7 linked regions of the Homo sapiens genome follow. The protein of the gene in region 6 purifies or fractionates together with the protein of the main gene of each other region. This does not show direct contact. Each region holds a gene or a part of one and is shown on either strand. Other genes may lie near its edges.

Region 1 (3,500 bases), on a different chromosome or scaffold from region 6:
TGTGCAGGTAATTCCATCTGTGTACTCACTGCCATGCACTTGGTGTTCTAGGTCTAGGGACAGTGGGGCAGTGGGAGCAAGGGAAGTCAGGGGGAAGAAGTCTTTAGTATTGCATTTGTTATTAATGTGTCTCTTGGTTTGGCCCAGAGCCAGGGGGATATGTTTCTGAAGCCAGCTACTTCTTTGAGAAACACAGCAATTCAAATTTTATGAAGACTAATCTGCAGCTCCCCTTCTGTGCCAGGCCCTGGTCCAGAAGCTTATTCCTAAGTAAAATGTGCCATTTAGATGGAGTCTAATTGGAAATCTGATGGACTTTTTCCCCCAGGGGTGGCTGCTAGAGAGACGGCCCAAGCTCTGAAAACACTGGCCCAGGCCGCCCGTGGAGTGGCTGCATCGACAACCGACCCCGCGGCCGCCCATGCCATGTTAGATTCTGCTCGAGACGTGATGGAGGGCTCCGCCATGCTCATTCAAGAGGCCAAGCAGGCCCTGATTGCACCTGGAGATGCAGAGCGTCAACAAAGACTGGCTCAGGTGAGGCTAGGAATGAGAAATTGTGGTTGTCATGGTCATCATTAACGTGGACATGTGGTCGGGCTGTCTCCTGGGCACTTTTCCCTGATATGAACACTGACACAGCAGATGTTTTCAGAAACTTCCAAAGGTCATAACGATGCTGGCCATACATGATACTCACTTTTGTAAGTCTTGCCTAGTATTCTCCACAGTAATGTGTGATCTGCTTAATTCACAGTCAGCAGAGGGCATGGGGGCCTTTGAATTCTGTCCTTGGGAGTTTCAGAGCCAGGACATAACATGCTTGTTTTGGGCCTATGTGTGCTGAGCTATATTGCTGTTCCTTGCCAGGGAATGAGGTAGATCCGCTAGGGCTGGCCACTCAGAAGTTTTCAACCCTGGCGCTCTATTACTTCTTTAAATGATTCTTCGACTGCCTGATGGAACCAGTTGGCTAAGGAGCATCCAGGCAGAGTCCTGGACGTGGGGCTGGGAAGGAGATGGCTTAGATGAGAGGGAATGACACTCCCCACCTCCAAAGACCTTCCTTTTAATTGAGGATACCAAAGAATGCAAACAGGGAGCCACCAAACATTTCTAGGCAACGTGAGGGCAGCTCCAGGTTGTGCTCAGAGCACCCCACTTGCCCTTGGGCAGAGTGAGGTTTGGGAGGATGGCCCCATGAGTCACTGAGCAGAAATTAACCACAGGCCTTCTAATTGTGATCCAAAAAACTCAAGGTCTCCTTCCACCTCGGCGACCTCAGCAGGGCTCCCAAGAAGGGAGATATTTTCATTTCTCTTGGTATAAGAAATCTTTGCTTTAGAACCTGACCTCATGCTGGAGAGTTCTATGTTTGAATCACAAAACTGTGGCTTACCCTGGCTTTGGGGAGCAGGTGGGATGTGCTGTGTCACTGTGTCGGACCCTTTGCTGAGACAGAATATTAACCCCAATAAGAGGGTGGAAAACATCTCTGGGACAAGGGGCCTGGATGAGGTGATGTAAGACAGGTAAGAGTGGCAGGTGGATGCTGGTGGGTCATTTCCGTATCTGCTTCAGCTCTGCATGTTTCACTGCCCATTCCCAACAAATGTGCAGAAATGTTTGTACTTAAAGGTGCTTCTCTCTCTCCACGAATTCAGGTGGCTAAAGCCGTCTCACACTCCTTGAATAACTGCGTAAATTGCCTCCCTGGGCAGAAGGATGTGGACGTGGCCTTGAAGAGCATCGGGGAGTCCAGCAAGAAGCTGCTTGTGGATTCGGTGAGAGGTTCTTAGATTGAGAAAGGACACTGGGGGACTAGGCTCGCGTTAGGTGTGAGTGAAGTCTTCTTCTCTCCATGAGATCTCTGAGCAGCTAACCCTTCCTTTAGGAGTCCTGTTTTTCCCGCCAGTCTTTGTTTTCCATGTTTTGCTGTCTGATCAACAAAGTTCCCAGGTGGAGCTTTTAAAGTTTACTTTTTCTTTGAGCCCATGTTGCCATTTCCTCTCGGATCGTCCCGGTGAGACAGGCAAAGGGGTATGTGATCACCTGTCTTCTCATCAGGACATCTCAGATAGTGACAGTCAGGTGTTGGAAGGGTACGTGTGTCCAAGCCTCAGTGAGAGAGCGAGTAGTCTGAGGAATTTCACCTTGGGGCCTGTTCCCTTCCCTGCTTTGTGAGTCTGCTGAAGGAGGGTTTGTGCTGGTGCATCTTTGTTTCTTCTCTGCACAGGTATAGAGGCAATGTTTGTGGGTGATGAATAGAGTCTAGCTTAACTCCCTAGAACTTTTCACAAATGGTTATCAGTCTGCTAGATGACATTTAAAAGTTATTAGCAAAGGCCACTAATATAATTGGTGGCTATTAGTTTGGAAGAACGTGATTTGAAGTTTGAGAGCATCTGCCTTTTAGTTTACAAAGCTAAAACTTAGCTTTCATCTTAACAGAGACAAAATAGGGTAGAGTTTTAGAGAATGGACCCTGGAGTCGGATTGCCTTGGTGTGGATCCTGTCTCTGCCACTTAGGAAACCTTGAGCCCCTGTAGATAGCTTACATTTTTAGATCCACAGTGTCTAGCACTGAGCAGGTGTTTGATACATTTAAATGAATGAATGGATGTATATGTTGGTGGTCAAACCTATTAATAAAATGGGCTCAGATGACTCAGAGCCTTTTAATCGTGATGACTCAAATGCATCTCTGAAGAGTCTGTCTCCCTTCCACAATACCTTCCTTTTATCCCTCCCCTGCAAAGCAGAATGTCTCATGGGGTGTGCCGTCTGTTCCCCACAGCTACCTCCAAGCACGAAGCCTTTCCAGGAAGCCCAGAGTGAACTGAACCAGGCAGCAGCTGATCTGAACCAGTCTGCTGGGGAAGTGGTCCATGCCACCCGGGGCCAGAGTGGAGAGTTGGCTGCAGCCTCTGGAAAGTTCAGTGATGATTTTGATGAATTCCTCGATGCTGGCATTGAGATGGCTGGCCAAGCTCAGGTGGGTGTGGAGGTGGTTGTCTGGAGTTGACCTTAGCCTCTCCTCTCGGATGGATAATCCATCCTTGAGACTGACTGAACAAATAGGAAAAGGAACCTGGAAACAGGCAGGCCATGGTTGCATTCTTTTTGCTGCTTAGGAAGCTCATGCCCTCATGGGAATGGCATTCCCAAAGATGCTATCAGCTTATGCATGAGGTGCTGTTAGTAATAAAGAATAACTTCTCCCACGATCCTCCAGCAGAATTCATAGTCTTACTATTTGGAGGGAGGGTAGGAGGAGGGAGAATGTTTAACAAAGATTAGAACAGCTCTTCAAATGTGGGATAATACAATAAAAATATATATGTATTTGAGGTTTAATGGACCATTCAGATGGTCTGTGTCTAATACAGAGTGTCAAGTGATTAAAAATTACCTCCTTCAGATGAACAGATAAACCCCTTGTTTAGAACAAGGGAGCTTGACTGATCTGGTGTCAGCTTGCAGAGCTGTGTTTTTTGTT
Region 2 (3,500 bases), on a different chromosome or scaffold from region 6:
CTCAGCCACAGCCTGCTTATTCTCAATCATCTGTGCTCTCCCTCTGCAACCAGGATTTAGGAGGCAGAACTCCAGAGAGACCCTCCCGGGCTCCTGGTTCCTGCTCACTTGCCCCAGCAGGGCCTTTGGAAGGCCTGGAAGGCTGATCCACGAGGCTGATCCTTGACTCACTTTAATGAGGAAAAAATGTCCTCTAGGAACAAATACATTTTTAATGAGCTATTTTCTGGCAGATTCAATTATTTTAGTAGTCACGCCAAGTTTATTAATCCTTTACCATCTGTCGTTGTGCCTTATTACAAATTCAAAAACATATTAAGAGCCCCATCACCCATCATCCCAGGGGAGTTGTCAATTTGTTCACAGAAAATGGGGATTTCAACAGAGATATACACTTGTTTCTCAATGACTGCTTTTTGGTAATAAACAAGCCCAACCATGAGGAATTCAGGAAATTGCTGGGGTTATTCCCCCTCTGATACACCACATTCTTCCATCTGACCTTGTTACAGAATATCTGTATTGCCAAGGAGGGCTGACTTCATTATATTTATTTATTAACTCATTTTTGACTCTTATTTTTCCTATTTGAAAAGTGGTAGGCTCATTGTGGAAAATTGTGTATGCATAAAGATAAAGAAGCATAACTTTGAGATAAAGATGGAAAAGGGCTCCGAGAATCCATCTTGCTACTCAGGGGTGATCACTGTGAACCAGTGACCCCAGAGTCTGACGGGCCACCGGCCGAGGGCCTGGCATCCCAGGAAGTGCAGAGGAGGGGGGCAGCTGAAGTCTGCTGATTTTTCAGTGCCTAGGATCCCCAGGACTTTGGATCCTTGGATTTGGGAATGGATGGCAGGCTGAGGACTCTGGATCCTTGGACTTGGGAATGGATGGCAGGCTGAGGACTCTGGATCCTTGGATTTGGGAATGGATGGCAGGCTGAGGACTCTGGATCCTTGGATTTGGGAATGGATGGCAGGAGCATGCCCTCTCCTTCACATAGGGCCCACTACAAGCTCAGCATGGGACCCATGTCAGGCCCTGCTGTGACTGCTCTACTCTCTTCCCAGCCTCCCCTCCCCAGACCAGCTCCGTGGCTGGAGAATGCACAGGAAGCGTGACCATTCATGGAGCTGTCCCTGATTGGAGTGGAGGTAGACATACAGCATGGCGCCGTCTGGCCCTGCCAGTCACCTGCCAAAGACGGAAGGTTTCTCCCGGAGGGACTATGACAGTCCCCACCTCTACACGATGGCCCACCCCCAACAGGAGCGTCAAGGCAGACAGACTCTGGAAGTTGTAAGGATGAGGACAGTTAGAGATGACAGCAGGTATGTTGTCATTATACAGGCAGGTAGATGGGGCAGAAGAAGGAAAGGGGAGAAGAATGTTCCTTCACCTCCCTGCTGCTGGCTTCTGGGCCTTTCCATAGAAGGTGCTTGGGAGCTGGGGCTTCACCGGAGGCTCTGGCATCCAGGTACCCAAGTGGACAGGGTTGCCCCCCAGCCAAGAGGGAGAGAAAAGGCAGCTGATGGTTAGATGGATGTCAGGCTGCTCCCCACAAACTCGGTGGACCCTGTTCCTATTACACTCCATGCTCATTTAATTGCAATGCTTTCATTTTGGAGTACTTTTACCCTGAAGCACATAGAAACTGGAGAGAGGTGGTGTTAAAAATGGAAGAGGAAAAATGATAGAGGAAGTCAAAAAACAACTTACCACACATGTCACATCCCCCTGCCTCTCTTCAATGCACTGGGCATTCACACTGCAAGGGTTCAGCTCTGGGTTTCTGCAGTTTCTTTCCGCTTTGCATCCCCTTATCTGATCACCAGTATACCCCGGCTTACAAGGCCCACAGCGGTAAGATCCCTGCAAGGAACAAAGATCAGGTGATGAGCTGAAAGCTGTGGGCAAAGGTACAGTTTGAGCAAAGGTACAGTTATTGTGTATATTTTCACAGGTACTCATTGCTGGCAGGAATCAGGCATCAGATCCATGCCTTCTTCTTTGCTTACATGTAAGATCATGTGAATGTTGATGAAAACACCATCAGACTGGAGGCTGCGTCCGGCCACTCAGACAAAGAAGGAATAGAAGTGAAGGAAGAAGGCTGGACTGTGAACCAATGACACTGAGTTGCCCGCGCCACCGTGGAGGGCATAGGGGACAGGTCAAAAGTTCCAGTGAAGTCCTGGGAGGTGGTGTGAGAAGTTTACTCTGGGGACAGGGAGATGATCTGCTTAAAAAGCAAGTTAATTTTTCTTATTGCTGTTCCTTTGGCTCTTTTACAATGGAATGACAAAGGAATGGGTGCACAGAGAAATGCTGGTGGCCTGCATTGAGAATTTCTGATGAGGTAGGCTGAGAAACTGACAAATGAGCTGTCAGCTCCGCTGCAATGACACTTCAGGGGCCAGGTTTTTTTAGCTTTTATATATATAATATATATTATCACACTGCACACTATATATGTAATAAATATTATACAATATGTTTAAAAAATGAAAATTAAAATTTTCATCTTTATTGAGGTATAATTGACAAAACTGAATATATTTAAAGTGTGCAGTGTGATGATGTGATATACGTATACATTGTGAAATGATTACCACAGTCAGTTAAGTAACACATCCATCAACTGACATAGTTACCTTCCTTTTTTTCTTTTTCAGTGAGAACACTTAAGATCTGCTCTCTTAGCAGATTTCATATATATAATATAGTATTATTAACTACAGTCACCATGCTGTACATTAGATCTTTTTCATCTTATGCAGTTTTATTGGCATAACATTTACAGGTCGTAAAAGACATCCATTTGAAGTATATATATTGTTTAATGATTTAAGTCACTCACAACCTCTTAGTTGCCAAATCCAATGCATGCTTTCCAATGACTTGTCTCGATCTTTCAGCCTCCCTGGCTGTGCTATCAGTTCGCTCCTTTTTCTGGCTTCTGCTCTTTTTCCTTGGCCTAGTCCTTCGTTTTTGGGGTTTCCTGGAGTTCTATTTACTGTCTACTTTCCTTCTCTCTAGGTGGCTCAGTTATTACCTTTACACCAAGATCTCGCAAATCTATTTGCAGACTACTTTGTCCTGGTAAAAGCTGAGAAGCAATAAATCCCCATCTATTCCTAAGCAATATAGCATTGCGGAGAAGAACTCAGGCTCTGTAGCCAACCTGGAAGATGTGTGACCTTAGTCTAAATACGTAACATTTCTTTTTTTTCTTTTTGGAGACAGGGTCTCCCTCTGTCACCCAGGTTAGAGTGCAGTGGCGATCACAGCTCACTGTAGCCTCAAACTACTCTTGTACCCAAATGATCCTTCGGCCTCAGCCTCCTGAGGAGCTGGGACTATAGGCATGCTCCACCATGCCTGGACTTAATGATGTAATATTTCTGTCCCTCAGTTTCTTCAATTGTAAAATGGGGATAATAATAATCCCTGTTTATGAGGTTGTTGTGAGGATTAAAATAAGTGACTTGATAAAT
Region 3 (3,500 bases), on a different chromosome or scaffold from region 6:
ACATATTTTCAAATTTAAAAAGATTAAAATGTACCAAAGCATCAACTCACTTATGAAGTACCTAATTAATTTCTGTTTTATTTTTATCCTAACCATGAGACTACTAAGGAAATATCCATTTTGGTTTAACAGACCAGGATATTCTAAAACTTTACTACTTTATAACTAGTTATTTTTGGTTGAGGACAGAATATGCAGATTCCACCCTATCACCAAAAATAATAATCATACTGAAGGTACATTCAATAACACTCTAAAATATGTATCACATCAGAAGCAAAGTACTTACTGCATCTTCCACATCAATGCATAAATGTGTTCCAGGTTCAGCCTTATTCTCAAGTTCATTCATTTTTTGCATTTCACTGTACAGACTACTCAGAGTTTTGTATGCTTCACGGCAGTTTTTGCATACTTCTGAATAATTTTTTGTCTGTAAAAGACTATGTGCATTCCCCTAAAATGACAAAGGCACATGTAATATATACAATAAACATTATATACAATATCTCTTTAATGTAAGCTATTTACGCTTCTAGAAGACGGGAAACAATATGGTGTGTTAAAGTGCTAAGCTGTGATGTTGAGTAGGTTACTAAATCACTCTGAGTCTCAGTTTTATCATCTATAAAATAAAACGACCTCTACCTGTATTATAAGTCCGAAGGATTAGAGACCCGGTATGTGAAGCAGATGGCAAACTGTTTGGAACTTTCTAGGTGCCTCTAAATTTTCAAAACTGCTGCATTAGCTAATGTTAACTGAGGATAACAATAATTCATATGCCAAATGACTAGTAACTAAATACAAAATTTCCTAAATTATCTCATCATCACAAACCCTCACTTATCTATCCTACTCTCACTGAATAAATAAAATAGGTTCCTGCCTATGCTGACTTGAACACCATAGTTTATCTTACTGAGACAGAACTTTTTAAATGGAAAGGGAAAAGGCACCAAAACTGCATCCCCACTCAACTCTCTTATCACAAGGCTCATAATCCAGGCCTTTCTAGTCAACAAAAAGGGCCAAATACCAAAGAATTGTATAACCTAAAATGAGGATAGTGGAGGTACATAAAATATTATGCTACTAAATCTCAATATTTTGTACTTCTAGACTGACACTTGTCTTTTCAAGAATAAGTTTGCTAAACAGTCAGTTCACACCTTTGCTTTCTATGCCCTTTATTCTTTACTTTGTAGTATGAAGAAAGAATATTAACTGAACATTGGGATGAAAGAGAAAAGAGAAAAATCAAAGTAATTACACTGATGTTGGCCCAACAATGTTACCCTCACCATCTGCTTGACAGAAAAACTAAGTCTCTCCTTAGTCTGCTACAAGAAATAGCCCATTGCTTGTTTTTCACAGAACAATTGTGCACTTAGTTAAAAATTGAGCACAGGGCTGGGCGCGATGGTTCACACCTGTAAACCCAGCACTTTGGGAGGCCGAGGTGGGCGGATCACAAGGTCAGGAGATCGAGACCATCCTGGCTAACACGGTGAAACCCCATCTCTACTAAAAATACAAAACTTAGCCGGGCGTGGTGGCGGGCACCTGTAGTCCCAGCTACTTGGGAGGCTGAGGCAGGAGAATGGCGTGAACCCGGGAGGCGGAGCTTGCAGTGAGCCGAGATCGCGCCACTGCACTCTAGCCCGGGTGACAGAGCGAGACTCCGTCTCAAAAAAAAAAAAAAAAATTGAGCACATAATCCATTTAACTAAAATTGTGCACATAATCTAGATGGGGAGTAATTTAACCTTTTTTTTTTTTTTTTTTTTTGAGACACGGTCTTGCTATTTTGCCCAGGCTAATTTCTAACTCCTGGGCTCAAATGATCCTCCCACCTCAACCTTCCAAAGTGCTGGGATTACAGGCAGGTGCCACCATACCTGGCCACAATTTTTATTCAAATTTAAAATGCACATATCTTTTAATAATGTGAAAGTTGCAGACATTAGGATGAAATCACCTTTTGACAGACCAAGACAAAATAGAGACAAAAAGAGTCCTTGTTTCCAAAGACTTTCTAAAAACCCCACAAGAAATCCTTTCACGCCCTTCATTGCAACTCCTGCTTTCACATGGTTTATCACTGCCATTCTTTAGGACTGCAGTAATTCAGATAAGATGCACTCAAAAGAACACTTGCCCAGTAATGGCATCGCCACCAATGAACTGACAACTTGGCTTTGAGCCTCAGGAACCAATGAACTCAGTTTCCAAGCAGCTTGTGTGAACCTCTCCCTTTTTGCTAATAAAAGCTTCCCTTTACCCTTCCCTCACTGGATGTACTGGTGGTTTGCCAGTGCATTCCAAATTACCATACTTCTTTCTTATTCCCTAATAAACTCATCATATTTGGAGATAATTTTCTCTAGTGTCTTTTTCTTAGGCTGCCAATATAGTAATTCTACTTCTAGAAATCTACCAAACTCATACAAGTACTCTAAGTTAAATGAAAAGAAGACTGTTTATGGTGTACAATTTAAAACTTATTATTTCCAGAATTTTCCATTTAATATTTTTGGACTGCAGTTGGCCACAGGTAACTGAAACTGTGGAAAGTGAAGCCATATATAAAAGGGATGACTTTATAGAAAAATTGCTATTTGAGTGTTACAACACACATCAGTCCACTAAAGGCTCTGAAGTCCTGTAGTAAAGCATTTCCCAACCTTAATGGAATACTAAACCCTTTCTGATAGGACATCTATTAACATGCTGCAGAACAAATTCTGAGAAATGTTCACCTAATTTTTTTTATTTTATTTTTTTGAGACAGAGTCTCTCTGCAACGCCCAGGCTGGAGTGCAATGGCACGATCTCAACTCACTGCAACCTCTACTTCACTACAGGCGTGCACCACCAAGCCTGGCTAAGTTTTGTATTTTTAGTAGAGACAGGGTTTCACCATATTGGCCAGGTTGATCTCGAACTCCTGACCTCAAGTGACCTGCCTGCCTTGGCCTCCCAAGGTGCTGGGATTATAGGCATGAGATACTGCACCTGGCCCAATTTTTATTATTCTCAAGGAAATTCATAATTCAGTGTTACCACATTTATTACAGAAGAAATCATACATGCTTATACCCTAAGCATGTGTACATCTACTATGGGGATTACTTACTTGTTATGTAAGTTTCAAAACTACATTTTAACCAGAGTTCCAACCTCGTCCTTCACCACGACCGGGCAAGTTCCAATACCAAAATTCAAGAGTCAGAGATAGAGATGGCAATAATCTACAAGGTTAAGATTCTTAAAGCTACCTTTTATTATCATAATTCAATACTCAAAGTTATCTTACTAAACAGTGCTTTTTAAGGTAGGTAAAACATACTTAAGCAAATTTCAGGCAAAGAATAAACTTCCTATAGACAGAATCATACTACACTGCAAAATACCTACGTAAGTCAGATTGAAAACCATTGTGTTTTAATTAAACAATCACACACCTCAATCAATGTTTTCACAATCATTATCTCACC
Region 4 (3,500 bases), on a different chromosome or scaffold from region 6:
CCTAAAACTGGGAGTAACCCAAATGCCCTTCAATTGCTAAATGGACAAACTGTGAAATAATCCATTCAATGGACTACTACTCAGTGATAAAAAACTATTGATACAAACACATGAACGAAGCTAACATGTATTATGCTAAGTGAAAGAAACCAGATTCAAAGAGCTAGAACTGAATGGTTCCATTTGCAGGCCATTCTAGAAAAGGCAAATTATCACTGGTTTTTAGGATCTGGGTTTGAGGCGATGAGACGGTTACAAAGGAAACTTTTGGGAGTACTGTAAAAGTTTTCTATCTTGACTGTGGTAGTTTTACATGTCAAAACTCAGAATATTATACTAAGAAGGATAAATTTTACTATATGTCAATCAGACCTCAATGAGCCTGACACTAAGAAAAAAAATTAACAGGAAAAACAATTATATAGTAATTATGCAACTAATTTGTTAAAGAATGAATTATAACGAATATGAATTTGTAACCACAAACCCAAGTGCAGAAGTCACACTTCTTAATTACAAAATAAAAGAATTATTTAAAAATACACTTTCAGATGTATTTGTTTACTTCTCACTGGGCATATATACCAATTTTAAATGTTCCATGGCATAAGCATTAATTTGTCAGTAAAATAATTATTTAAATAGGAATACTGCATACATTAGCTTTTTTCTGAAACTACTTTCATTAGTTTCTAAATAGGCCCAATGTTTTCATGTGCCTTTGCTATAAATGAACTAAAAACACTGCTCTTATAGAATATATTAAGTAGAGAATTAATTTACTACTGATGCTTTCATGGTTTTAGATTTTTCAAATACCTGGAATACCATCATCCACTTATTGGTCCCCTGCATTTCAGAAATCTTATTAAAATGGTACTTAAATAGCTCTCTTACACTGCAGAGGCAGGTGTGTGTTTGGAAGTTGGCGGGAAAGTAAAATGACAGCTATTTTTTCTTGTTGTTTAGAGGGTGGGAACAGAAAGCAATCCTAAACTAAGCTTTTTTTGAGGAGTGCAATTCCCCACCAGTAAAGCTGGAACTTATTAAATATACTAGATTATATTTTAACCTACTTTTCCTTTTTTTCCTTCCTACTTTCATATACTCAGAGACTCAATGCCACAGAGAAGTATCCACTCTCATTTGCATAACACAAATAGTTTATATAAAGTATATATACATGTAGTATCAATATATATGTATTATCTCATTTAATTCTCACCAAAACCTGTGAGAAAATGTTTTTCTTTTTCTTTTTTTTTTTTTTGAGATGGAGTCTTGCTCTGTCACCCAGGCTGGAGTGCAGTGGCGCGATCCCGGCTCACTGCAAGCTCCCCCTTCTGGGTTCACACCATTCTCCAGCCTCAGCCTCCCGAGTAGCTGCAACTACAGGCGCCCACCACCACGCCCAGCTAATTTTTTGTATTTTCAGTAGAGACGGGGTTTCATCGTGTTAGCCAGGATGGTCTTGATCTCCTGACCTCGTGAGCCACCTGCCTCGGCCTCCCAAAGTGCTAGGATTACAGGCGTGAGCCACCCCGCCCGCCCCAAGAAAATTTTTTTCAATTTCTATTTTATAGAAGTCAAAACCCACTCAGGTTGGATTCATTGTCCAAAGGTCATACTAACCAGTAAAGTAGCAGACAGAGCCAGAAGTTGAATCCAGATCTTCTGACACACTAGGCAACCTGTTATTTCTTAATAATCTGTGCCTCCATCAGCACCTACTACAGTCTGAGAACAGCTGACATTATGGGAAACCTACATCCAATGATGTCTAAAACTATTATTAACAGCTTATTTAATAGTAAGCTAAGAAGTAAACTAAATTTTAAAAATAAAGTATGTGAAAAAGAACCTATAAAAATATCACTCTTGGCCAGGCGTGGTGGCTGATGCCTGTAATCCCAGCACCTTGGGAGGCCGAGGTGGGCGGATCGCCTAAGGTCAGGAGTTCAAGACCAGCCTCGCCAACATGGTGAAATCCCATCTCTATTAAAAATACAAAAATTAGCGTGGTGGCGGGTGCCTGTAATCCCAGCTACTTGGGAGGCTGAGGCAGGAGAATCACTTGAACTTGGGAGGCGGAGGTTGCAGTGGACTGAAATCGTGCCACTGCACTCCAGCCTGGGTGACAAGAGCAAAACTCTGTCTCAAAAGAAAAAAAAATCACTCTGAAGTGAAATTTGCACTGATACTAAGAACCTTATTTTAAAAAGGTTAAACAATGTCTTAAAAGACCAAGGCTGAGGAACTGTTCTACAGGGTGGCCATAAAGTTTACAAACAGATACTATCATTTTACATGTATCTTAATGTAATGTCAATAAGCCATTTATTATATAATCTCCTGTAGCTCCACACTTGGTGGCTGTTCTGTATATCAAAGGAGATTAAGAGGCCCTTTCAACTAAATGCGAAATGAGATTCTGGATGGGAAAAAAACAAAGGCCATTATTGGGACAACTGGCAAATTTTGAAAATGGATGCATATTAGATGACAGAAGTGAATCAATGTTGAATTTCCTGAATGTGATCACTATACTGTAATTATGCAAGAGAAGTTTCTTGTTCTTAGGTGATACATATTTAAATATTTAGGAATCAAAGGTTATGAGTAAGTCTGAAACTTCATCCAACTGCTCCCCAACATGTGTATGTTTGTGTGTATAGAAAATTCAAATGGCAAAATACTAACTGGTGTCTAGATGAAGATTACGCAGTGTTCACTCAATTACTCTTGAACTTAGATGTTTGAAACTTTTAAAAATTAAGAGCCAAAGATAACAGGTAAAATTTTACATATTTTCTTTCCATTCTCTTCAATAGCGAGCGATTAGACATTTCCAACAAGGCCTTTTATAAGTAATTGAATAAACATATTTTTAGCATCTCTATAAATAAGTTAACTCTAGTTGGAAACAAACAGTTTTTTACTTTAAAAAACTGGGTATAAAACATAGCAGCAAAACAAAAACAAAAGGCAGCAAATAGCACATACTCTAAGGAATAGCTCATACTTTATTAGCTGTCACAGGATTACAGTAAAACTTGAGTACTGTCCTCCACTTTTAAAGAACTTAAAATTTGCTAAGAAACTGATACAATTTAATTCACTTCCTATGGATCATGAACAGTGTTTTAAACACTGAGTAAACTTACTATCAGATTTAACCAAAACTTAATTCACTTTAATAAGATTTTAACATTGTTTCCTACTCCACCCCCAAGATTTAAAAAAATTTCTTATAATGTTAATGTATTTCACTATGAATGCAATGAGGATGCATCATGTAGGCATTAATTTCCATGAATTCAGTTGTGAGCCCTCAAGGGGAAAAACTAAGGATTTCAACTGCATAGGCACCATTCCACCAAATAAGCACACACCTTCCCCAGGGAGCACTAAGCCAGGGTATAAGGGAGCTGTCCAGTTACGTATGCCTCTTTCCCAGTGTGCATCTTGCCAAGCTCTAATCCTAGTGTTTAAAGTATTTT
Region 5 (3,500 bases), on a different chromosome or scaffold from region 6:
TGGGTTCAAGTGATTCTCCTGCCTTAGCCTCCCGAGTGGCTGGGACTACAGGTGTGCACCACCACATCCACCTAATTTTTGTATTTTTGATGGAGATGAGATTTCACCATGTTGGCCAGGATGGTCTGGAACTCCTGGCCTCAACTGATCCATCTGCCTTGGCCTCTCAAAGTGCTGGGATTATAGGCATGAGCCACTGCATGAGGTCTTAAAATATATTGAAAGCAAAAATACTCTCGTAACTGAACATACCCAGGCAATCTCTCTCACCTCAACATGGACAACAGTAAACAGGAGTTATTTATGTTGTGGATCTGAAGCCAGTTCTTACCTTGAGAAGTCTAGTCTGCTCTTTAAAATCTTCATCTTCATCTGATTCTGCATCAGGTAAGTGATAGATTTTGATGTTATGTTCTTCAATTTCATCCAGAATCTGAGAGAATGACAAAACCAGGATCAATTTTAGCAAACTGCGTATGTTATTGTAGCCAATTCTAGCTCATCTTGTAAGAAATATATTGGAAATCATACAAATGTCAATAATCAAACTGATGACGAAAGTTACTGTCAAATAAATTTATAAAACTGCGGCCGGGTGTGGTGGCTCACGTCTGTAATCCCAGCACTTTGGGACGCCGAGGCAGGTGGATCACAAGGTCAGGAGATGGAGACCATCCTGGCTAACATGGTGAAACCCTGTCTCTACTAAAAATACAAAAAAATTAGCTAAGCGTGGCAGTGGACGCCTGTAGTCCCAGCTGCTGGGGAGGCTGAGGCAGGAGAATGGCGTGAACCCGGGAGGCGGAGCTTGCAGTGAGCTGAGACCACTGCACTTCAGCCTGGGTGACGGAGCAAGACTCCGTCTCAAAAAAAAAAAAAAAAAAAAAAAATTTACAAAACTGCTAGAAAGGTATTTATACTTGAATTTTGAGGATCCTCTGTACAGAATAAAAATAACATTAGCAATAATGCACCACTACCCTCAATGTACAAAGCAGCAGGAAGACTAACGATAGCCCCAGCACAACAGCTAAAATGGAAATCACACCACAATCAGCCTCAAGAAGGGTAATTGCCACAGAGAAGCTACAGGCATGAGAAGACCCTGGAGAACAGGCAGGAGTCTTAAAAGCAGAGAGAAGGGAGAAGTACCCCAGATGGAAAAAAAGGAAGAAAGAAAGAAAAAAAAACAAAACCTCGTCAAAGGCACAGAGAGGACACATGGGGTGCATTTTGAGAATAAGAAATTCAAAAGGTTGGAATCTAAGACATCCAGTTGGATAAGGAAACAAAAATTGGAATTACAAAGTGGAGAGTTCCATCAACACCAGGCTAGCGACCTGGGGATCTGTATTTCATTCAACAGGCAGCCAGCAGTCAGCAGTGAAATCCCACAATCGGACCTATCAAGCAGGCAGTAGTGTGGGGGATGGGGCTTGAGGGGAGAAAGAACTGGGCTGAAGTTGAAATACGAATGCATTCATCAGTCAATCAATTAAAACCCTAGCACTCAAATGCTCATTGCATGGTGGGCATTCTCACAGGCACCAGGCAGGCCACAGTTTTGTTTGGTCTCACCTCAGTACCTGAGCCATTCAGGGAAGAGAGAACAAGAGCAACGTGAGCAGAAAATATCCCGACCTCAAACTGTGCACTGGATTTGCTTTCTGGTTTTTAAGAATGGAAAGCCTTAATGTGACCTAAAAAGGGCCTTGAATGGTCAGAGATTTGGTCTTAGTACAATGTCTGCACTAATTCAGAACTCCAGAAAAGGCCCTCCTCTCTACATCCTTTACTCTGTAACTCGACCTTCAGTCTTTTCATAAATCCTTATTCCTAAATGGGAGGAACCATCTTATCTCTGGGAGAAACTGAGCAATAAGAAGCATGAACTTGCTCACCTGTCCTCATCTTACGGCCCCTTTCCTGGTCTACTATCCATCCATGCTAACCTCATCTTTTGTCCTATGCTGGCCTCATAAAGATGGAGCTTACACTTTGGAGGAGAGAAGAGTTCGGAAACAGTTAGTAAGCTATTTAAAAGTGAGCAGAGGAGTCAGAAGTGATGAGTAAAAAATAATTTACACATTTCTCAGTCTGGATGATTTCAAGAATTGTGGGACCATTTAAAGAGACAGGGGAGCTGGAAGGACAGGAGTCCATCAGTGGTCAAAAGAGGACTCCTGTGGGTAAATGTGGTTCACAACAAGAAATAAGATACCTGGAAGGGCAAATCAGAAGCCACAGAAATAATGTGATCAAAATAATACTAAGGAATACTGACCTTCAGGGATCAGGAAGGAAGGTGGTAAAAAACAGCAGATAGAAAAGCAAACACAGTGGTTCAGCAGCCAAGGAAGGGAAGTTTCAGAAGTAGAATTGCCAATCACACAAACCCCACAGGTGGGGCCCACATCTGAGAACTGAACTGTTGGCCAAGCCCATGAGAGAGCAATTGCAGGTGGATGACAGGAAGCCTGAGTGAACAGGATCATGGGGAGGGCAGATAACAGCTACCAGTAAGTGTCTGACTAGAAGAAAGGCTGGTGAAGGCAAGAAGCTAGTAGAGGCTGGCAGGAGGCAAGAGGTTCTTGTAGATAGGGCAGAATGAACAAACTGGTAGGCATCAAGGAGAAACTGGAGGAAGAGAAGTGATTAATGAGGCCCAAGAAGGAAGGGATAAAAGCTCGAAGTATTTCGATTCATCTCAGATGTTGTAATCCAGCACTAAATGTTTCGCATACAGGATTAGAGATTAGAATTACAGCATTCTAACCCTGACACCACCCCCATTTCTACCTCAAAGAAATTTAATATAGCAGAGTACAAAAGGTGAAGTTCCCTTAAGTAGGAATTACTAAAGTATTTATTAGCATAAAAACGTCTACGCTTCCAGGGGTTCTTCAAAGGTTCAAATACTTTCTAAAAAACTGGCAGGCACTTGAGACAATTTAGGAAAAGGCTGCCAAACATGACTACATGCTGCTTAAAAATTGCTTTGGAAAAAAGCACCAAGAAAAATGTGAAAAAATGAAAGTCAAACCAGGTGAAATCATCTGCAACGTGATAGTCAACATCTAAAAATAAGTATATGTGTTAAGTCAATAAAAAAGCAAGAGCCAAGTCCCTGCAACCTGAGAGAATACACCAACCGGCATCAACACCAGCACAGATACTCACATCGGCAATCAAGGAAAGGCAAATTCAAATGAGATACAATTTCTCAGACAGGAAACACATTACAAAAACTGGCAACATAACCAGGACAGTTTTAGGGGGTGGAGAGAAGAGTACACTTTGGAAATGTAAATTGTTACAAACTTACTTTAGAGCAAATTTAGTCATCCTTCAAAAATTTAAATGTATACTTATTTCCTAAGAATTCGTTTGGCTCACACAATTGTGAAAAGATAGATGTACACCAGTGTTCATTACAACAATTATGCAACAAATCTATTATGTGCCAGACATTATTCGGAACTCTGGGAATACATAAGTGA
Region 6 (3,500 bases):
GATGCTGTTGCTCCTGGTAAGCAGCAAAATTTCAACAAAAACATTTGACACCCAGACTTAGCTGAAAAGGGCCTTGGAGACAGAATCAAAGTAGTAATAGTCCCTGTGGCCACCTGTCGCCAGGAGGAAGCTAAACCCAGCAAATGATGATGCCTAGTGCCTCTTCGTGGTTAAAGAATTTAGAGTTCATTTGTATTTAAAACTTTTTCTTGTCTGTTTTTCCACCAGTGTCAGTTCCCAATACCTGAAAAGATCTAAGTCAGCTTCTGGGAGAGTATACAGAAGGATCTGGAGGGATTCAGAAGAGCCTATGCCACCAGCACACTAACTTGCTCCTATCACCCAGCCCAACTTGGAGCTAGGAGCTCTGAAGGCTACCAAAGAGGACTTGTGGAGAGGGGAGGGCTCAGGGATTTAAGAACAGCTCTCTCCCCTTGGTGGCAGCTGGAAGACCAAGAATTGAGAATGGCATCACAAGATGGAAGGAGCTGGATCCCTGAGTTACTGCATGGAGAGCTGCCAAGGAAAGCAGCTCAGCCCTCATCAGATGTTGCACAAGCAAAAAAAAAAAAAACCAACAAAAAAAAAACGTTCATTGTGTTGAGCCACTGAGATTTGGAGACTCTACGTTACTGCAGCATAACCTACCATGATCCTCAGGTAAGCCCCTAGGACATGGGGGTAGGGTGGTTTAGGGACAGGTATTATTACTCAGCCTAAGGTAAAGTGTCTGTGTTGTAGTGTGATTTGAATGGGGAAGAAGACATTATATTAAACGCAAACGCAGGCCGGATGCAGTGGCTCATGCCTGTAATCCCAGCACTTTGGGAGGCTGAGGTGGATGGGTCGCTTGACGTCAGGAGTTCAAGACCAGCCTGGCCAACATGGTGAAACCCCATCTCTACTAAAAATACAAAAATCAGCCAGGTGTGGTGGCAGGCACCTATAATCTCAGCTACTCAGGAGACTGGGGCAGGAGAATCGGCTTGAACCCGGGAGGCGGAGGTTGCAGGGAGCCGAGATTGCACCACTGCACTCCAGCCTGGGCAACAGAGCAAGACTCCGTCTCAAAAAAAAATGCAAATGCAGACTCTAAAAGTAGTTTGTCTGTATTCATATTCCAGCTCTACCCCTTGCTGTTTGTATAATATTGGGTAAGTTATTCTCTCTAGGCCTCAGTTTCTGCATCTCTAAAATCTGGCTTACACTTACCTTAGAGACCTCAACAGATTGTTATGAGATTTAAATGAGATAATCCACAGAAAATATTTAGTATGGGGCTTGACACTTAGTAAAAACTTAAGTCTTAGTTATTTCCTATCTCATGACTAGTTTTGGACCTTACAACACAAACCCTCACTAAAGTTAAATGTGGAGATGAGGAAAGCAAGAGTTGGAAGTTACCACTCACTGCAGTCACTTGCATAATCTTGACATTTAAAGAAACTCCTGAAAGACTAAAAAGAAAAGAAACCAACCTAGTAGAGGTTGTGTTGCATGGGCTGAAGAATGCAATCCCCTCATACAACCACCCACCCCAGCATGCATACAAACGTCCCATGGCAGAGACCTGCTCACTAATCCTATTTCTTCTGATTCCTGGGCCTACAGCTACACTAGTTCCCAGCCTCCTGGCTCAGTCCTGTTCCGTCTAATAGCATGTGGGAGCGGGCATGGCAAAGGCCTATCCTCCTATGCATGACCCTCTAGGCAGCATGACCTTAGGAGCCATGTGTGGAAGATGGTAAAGCCTGGAAGATGGAAAGCACCTGAGTCCCTGAGTCACTGCTTGCAGGAGAAGTTCCATGGATGAAGAGACCCAGTTGGACTTGAGGAGCAGGAAATAAACTTCCAGCAAGTTTGAGCCATTATACACTTTGTTATTATAGAATCTGGCAGCAGTTAGAGACACCTGTTTTCTAATAATATGTCAAATCTTTTCTAGTTCAGGTGTTTATGTTGAAAAAAAAATTCTTACATTTAAAATAGGATTTTAATCTAATTATGTGAAAATAAGTTATAGTTATTTATAGAAAAACAACAGGGACAAATTTTGAATTCATTTCTCCCAAAGCACCTCAGTTACTACAAGCAAGGGGAAAGTTTAAGTTGCCCTGCCTGCTGCCTCCCTGATAATCTGGATCCATCACTCCCTGAGGACATTTTCTGAATTCTATTAATGTGAGCAAATGGTGCTGTGCATGGCAGGCAGGAAAATCAAGGGGTTGTGATCATTTTATCTTTACAACCTTGTGACAGTTCACTCACTTCTTCACACGTCAGGAAAGGAGAGAATGTATGCTTATCATTAATCAAATTAAACGCCTAAGCCTGGCCACCCCTCCTAACCATGCCTTCCTTAATTCTTTCTTTGAGCTAAATTTTCCTGCTTCTCCATTCTCCCACCCTTAAGTACCCAACAGAAGGGCAACTGGTCACTTACCCAATGCACGGATTGGTCTGGTACCTCGGTGCCGTGTAGGAGAAAGGAGAGATGTCCTTATCAACAAAAGACCCAAATCCCAACCGGAAGTTGCTGGTGAGCTTCCTCATCTCCTCCGCGAGTTTGGTGCCCAGGCTCCGGATATTGTCCAAGTCATCCTTCATGGACAGGGAGAGGTCCATCAGGTAGTACAGGTCCACAGGATAGTCCTCCACCTGGCGAACCTGTAGCTGGAAGGTGGTCTTGTCACCTGCACCAACAGAGAGGCCACGTGTGTTAGAGGTTGTGCAACCTGCTGAGGGCTGAGGGATGGGATTTGCTTTCAAAGCTAGTTTGCCTCTTACTTTTCTTTAGTGATTGTGTGCCTCACAGAAGATTTTTCTTGGAAGTAAAGTGCCTGAAGGGAATACGGTGCTGAGAATGGAGGCCTGGGTTCTCCTTCCTAAACATTCGGCTTAGCACTTCTTTTTTTATTTTATTTTATTTTTTTTGAGACAGTGTTGCTCTGTCGCCCAGGCTGGAGTGCAGTGGTGCGATCTTGGCTCACTGCAACCTCTGCCTACCAGGTTCAAGCGATTCTCATGCCTCAGCCTCCTGAGTAGCTGGGATTACAGGTGCCCACCACCATGCCTGGCTAATTTTTGCATTTTTAGTAGAGACGGGGTTTCACTATGTTGACCAGGCTGGTATCCAACTCCTGGCCTCAAGTGATCCACCTACCTCAGCCTCCCAAAGTGCTGGGATTACAGGTGTGAGCCACCACGCCTGGCCTGGGCTTAGCATTTCTAAGGAAACTCCTTAACAACCAGGCTCCTTGGTAGTGTTCTGTCTTCTCAGCAACAAAGACCCTTGAGTAATCAGTGGACAGTGAACCAGACAATTTCATGAACACAAACTGGGTGGAGAGTAGCCCACCAACCACATACCAACTCCAGAGAAAGACCCAGTCACGATGGGAATGTGCGTTTGAAACAAAAAGCAGGGAAGAAATGAACAAAAGAGGGGTGTGGGCCTGAGTGGGGAAGAACCAAGTTGGGGAGAGAGATGTGCAAGGCAA
Region 7 (3,500 bases), on a different chromosome or scaffold from region 6:
CTAGGAACAAAGGGGAAATTCAGCATGTTTTCATATCCTAGAACTAAGTTATTGTTGTTTTTCTCTCTGCAATTATCCCCTAGAGCTGAAAATTGCAGGTAAGAATTCAAAACTCCTACCCTTGTTCTGTCAAAATCCTGTTGTATTACAATCATTTGTGATGAATAAGCCTGAAATTGAAACTATCAAACAGAAAAGCCAGCCTGGGTCAGTTTTGTCAGAGCTAATCTGTATTTTAAATTGGAATCGTCCAATGGGAGAGACATTTTGCAAACACAAATGCTGCTGCGTGATACCAAACAGCACTTTTTTCTTTCTTCTTCTTCTTCTTCTGAAGATGCTAAAAGCCCAAATGGGAAGCACTCCAAGGGCTACAGTGTCATACACAGAATGGCAACACTGAGAACAAGTTGACTGTGATTTTTCTTCCTTGTGAAAAGTAGCCATGCCAGTGGCAAGGGGATGGGGTTAGACAAGGCAAAACTACTGATTTCCAGGTTGTCTGTGTTCCCCCAGCCCTTAGATTCTCAAGGCCCTGAGCTCTGACACATGTACATTGAGACAAAGGCAGGAGCCTCCCAGAACTTGGGAGTAAAGCAATTCTGCAAGAGGGAAGTATAATGAGTAGCATAGTATCACTACCCCCTCTCCCCACCAAATCACATCCACCCAGAACCTCAGACTGTGACATTGTTTAGAAATTGTGTCCTTGCAGATGTAATTAGTTAAGCTCTTGAGACAAAATCATTCTACATTTAGGGTAGGCCCTAAATCCAATGATTGGTGTCCTTAAGAGAAGGGGTCACAGAGAGACACACACAGAGAAGGTCATGTGAAGACGAGAGAGATGGGAGTGATGCTGTCATAAGCCAGGGAATCCCTGGAGTACCAGAAGCTAGGAAGAGGCAAGGAAGGGTTCTCCTTTAGAGCCTCCAAGGAGAGCATGGCTGTGCCAACCCCTTGATTTGTCAGACTTCTGCCCTCCAGAACTGAGAGAGAATGAAAATTTCCGTGGTTTTAAGTTTGTGGTACTTTGTGTTACAGCAGCCCCAGGAAATAAATTCAAAGGAATCAACACACAAAGAATGAAAGCAACCTTAAACAGGGGTAACCAACCTAAAAAAAAGTCAGGAAGTGGGTGCTGAGCACAGGTAAGAAGACTAAATCCAACGAAAGATCCTAGTATTAAACTCCAAAGAGTATAAATCTAATGTCATATTGTTATTAAAATTCCATTGAACATTATTTATTTATTTATTTTGGAGACAGAGTCTCGCTCGGTCACCCAGGCTGCAGTGCAGTGGCACGATCTTGGCTCGCTGCAACCTCCGCCTACCAGGTTGAAGCGATTCTCATGCCTCAGCCTCCCAAGTAGCTGGGATTACAGGTATGCACCACCAATTTTTTGTATTTTTAGTAGAGACAGGGTCTTGCTATGTTGCCCAGACCAGTCTCAAACTCCTGGCCTCAAGTGATACGCACGCCTCAGCCTCCAAAGTGCTGGGATAACAGGCATGAACCACTGCACCCAGCCTCACACTGAATATTTAATCCTCACAAGCAACCCTATGAGACAGACATTATGCCATATTGCCAGTGAAAAAAATGAGGCCCATGGGGTTGAGCAATGTGATGGAGGTTGGACAGGTGGTAGTTGTGGAGCTGGGATTTGAACTGTTTGACTGACATAAATACCTATACTGTTAACAACCTCATTATGCTGGAGTTCAAGTGCCTTGTACCATATAAATAGCATGTCCTACTGACAGAAGAAAGGAATGTTCAGGACAGTGATTTGCACTGAATGTAGAAAAAGGATAGTTTAGGACAGTGGTCTCTAAAGAGGGCTCGGTACTCACCATGAGTGTAGCAGGCAATCCACTGGCTGTGGGGAAAATGACAACTTCTATTTACATTTATTTATACCTTATCTTTTAAACATTTTCCAGAAGGATATATTTCATAATGTACTGAACAAATTGGTAAACAAATATAAATAAGCATCTTAATAACAAGAATACATTATTTTTCATCAGAACACATTATTAGTCTGGTCTAGAGAAGAAGGAGTCATTCATCTCTCAAATGTAGTTTGGAGACTGTGGTCAGCAAAATAATGACACCCAAATATGTCCATGTCCTAATCTTCAGAAACTGTGAATATGTTCTCTTCCATGGCAAAAGATATTTTGCAATGTCATTAAGCTAAGGATCTTGTGATGAGAAGATTATCCTGGGTTATCTGGTGGGTCTCATGTAATTACAAGGGTCCTTATGAGGAGGTGGCAAGAAAGTTAGAGAAGAAGTCAGAGGATGTGTGATAAAGGAAGAAGAGATCACAGAGAGAGAGAGATATTTGAAGATGCTATGCTGCTGACTTTGAGGATGAAGGAAGGAGTCACAAGCCAAGGAATGCCTCTAGGAGCTAGAAAAAGCAAAGAAACAAATTATCCCCTAACAAATCCAGTATGAATATAGCCCTGCCAACACCTTGATTTTAGAGCTTCTACCCTTCACAACTCTGAGATAATAAATTTGTGTGTTAAGCCAGTAAGTTTGAGGTCATTTGTTACAGCAGCAACAAGAAACTAATACAGAGACAGTGGTTCCTAAGACCTTCCAAAAGAACAGTTGTTCTGGGACAGGCACAAGATATGAAAGGAAGATTGACTTTTCATGTTAACATTTTTTGCATGCTTTGTACTTTTTCCATGAGTGTGTATGATGTATCTTAAATTAATTAAAATTTAAACATTAACAAAACAATCTTAACATTAACTCCACTTTTCCTGGGTCCATGGATTCACCAAACCTTCTGGTTAATATTAGATGTTTCTATAGGATGAGAATACATTTACAGGAGGATTACAGGTTAGATCTCTTGGCAGCTAGAATTCTTACTGTAAGTTAGTAAATTGGCTTTCTAGCTTGTATTTTGGTCTCTTGAGTTCTTGGTAGGCATGGGCACTCTGGTAAAATGAAATTCCTGTAACACTTAACCTTAGATCTTGGAGTATTGCCAAGGGCTTGCCCCTCAGCCTTCCTCACTGTGGCATCCTGGGACTCTCTGCCATCACTAAGTATTTATGTCAACTTTCCTGGCTATGCGACCTTGGCTAAGATACTTTCCTTCTCTGAGCCATAGTTTCTTCATCTGAAAATATTAATATTTCACCAACTGATCTCCTATATCCTTTTTAACCTTTCTAATTCTGGATATCTTTTTTCAAAGAATTTTACTGAGAAAAATTATCATTACACAGTATTCTTTTAAAAGGATATAAAACTACGCTTAGTATAGGGAATGAGTATGCAAATACTTAAAAATACATACAGAAATACAATTATGTATTCTTAAATATTTGCATACTTATTCCCCAAAGAAAACTAAAAAGAAACATAAAGACTAAATACACCTGCTTTCAAGTAGAAATATCAAGACAATTAAAATTATTCTTCCTAGTACCATTTTAATTTTGTCTAATTTCTAAATTTTCTCA

Evidence for each region.
Region 1: the proteins of ITGB5 (region 6) and TLN2 purify together in Homo sapiens (co-immunoprecipitation; one study listed by IntAct). This does not show direct contact.
Region 2: the proteins of ITGB5 (region 6) and THBS4 purify together in Homo sapiens (co-immunoprecipitation; one study listed by IntAct). This does not show direct contact.
Region 3: the proteins of ITGB5 (region 6) and OSTM1 fractionate together in Homo sapiens (co-fractionation; one large-scale study listed by BioGRID). This does not show direct contact.
Region 4: the proteins of ITGB5 (region 6) and FERMT2 purify together in Homo sapiens (co-immunoprecipitation; one study listed by IntAct). This does not show direct contact.
Region 5: the proteins of ITGB5 (region 6) and SEPTIN2 fractionate together in Homo sapiens (co-fractionation; one large-scale study listed by BioGRID). This does not show direct contact.
Region 7: the proteins of ITGB5 (region 6) and TIMD4 purify together in Homo sapiens (affinity purification with western blotting, with the first as the bait; one study listed by BioGRID). This does not show direct contact.

The regions. Positions count from the first base shown.
Region 1 is NC_000015.10:62,736,550-62,740,049, forward strand, and holds part of TLN2 (talin-2), read left to right. Parts: intron 1-328; coding exon 329-537; intron 538-1,664; coding exon 1,665-1,784; intron 1,785-2,798; coding exon 2,799-2,996; intron 2,997-3,500. UniProt on the Homo sapiens protein: As a major component of focal adhesion plaques that links integrin to the actin cytoskeleton, may play an important role in cell adhesion. Recruits PIP5K1C to focal adhesion plaques and strongly activates its kinase activity.
Region 2 is NC_000005.10:80,066,348-80,069,847, reverse strand, and holds part of THBS4 (thrombospondin-4 isoform a precursor), read right to left. Parts: intron 3,500-3,500; exon of another isoform or gene 1,967-3,499; intron 1,876-1,966; coding exon 1,723-1,875; intron 1,335-1,722; exon of another isoform or gene 1,074-1,334; intron 1-1,073.
Region 3 is NC_000006.12:108,050,742-108,054,241, forward strand, and holds part of OSTM1 (osteopetrosis-associated transmembrane protein 1 precursor), read right to left. Parts: intron 458-3,500; coding exon 290-457; intron 1-289. UniProt on the Homo sapiens protein: Required for osteoclast and melanocyte maturation and function.
Region 4 is NC_000014.9:52,941,051-52,944,550, forward strand, and holds part of FERMT2 (fermitin family homolog 2), read right to left. Parts: intron 1-3,500. UniProt on the Homo sapiens protein: Scaffolding protein that enhances integrin activation mediated by TLN1 and/or TLN2, but activates integrins only weakly by itself. Binds to membranes enriched in phosphoinositides.
Region 5 is NC_000002.12:241,339,925-241,343,424, reverse strand, and holds part of SEPTIN2 (septin-2), read right to left. Parts: intron 434-3,500; coding exon 332-433; intron 1-331.
Region 6 is NC_000003.12:124,845,866-124,849,365, forward strand, and holds part of ITGB5 (integrin beta-5 isoform a precursor), read right to left. Parts: intron 2,694-3,500; coding exon 2,444-2,693; intron 1-2,443.
Region 7 is NC_000005.10:156,928,727-156,932,226, forward strand, and holds part of TIMD4 (T-cell immunoglobulin and mucin domain-containing protein 4 isoform 1 precursor), read right to left. Parts: intron 1-3,500. UniProt on the Homo sapiens protein: Phosphatidylserine receptor that plays different role in immune response including phagocytosis of apoptotic cells and T-cell regulation.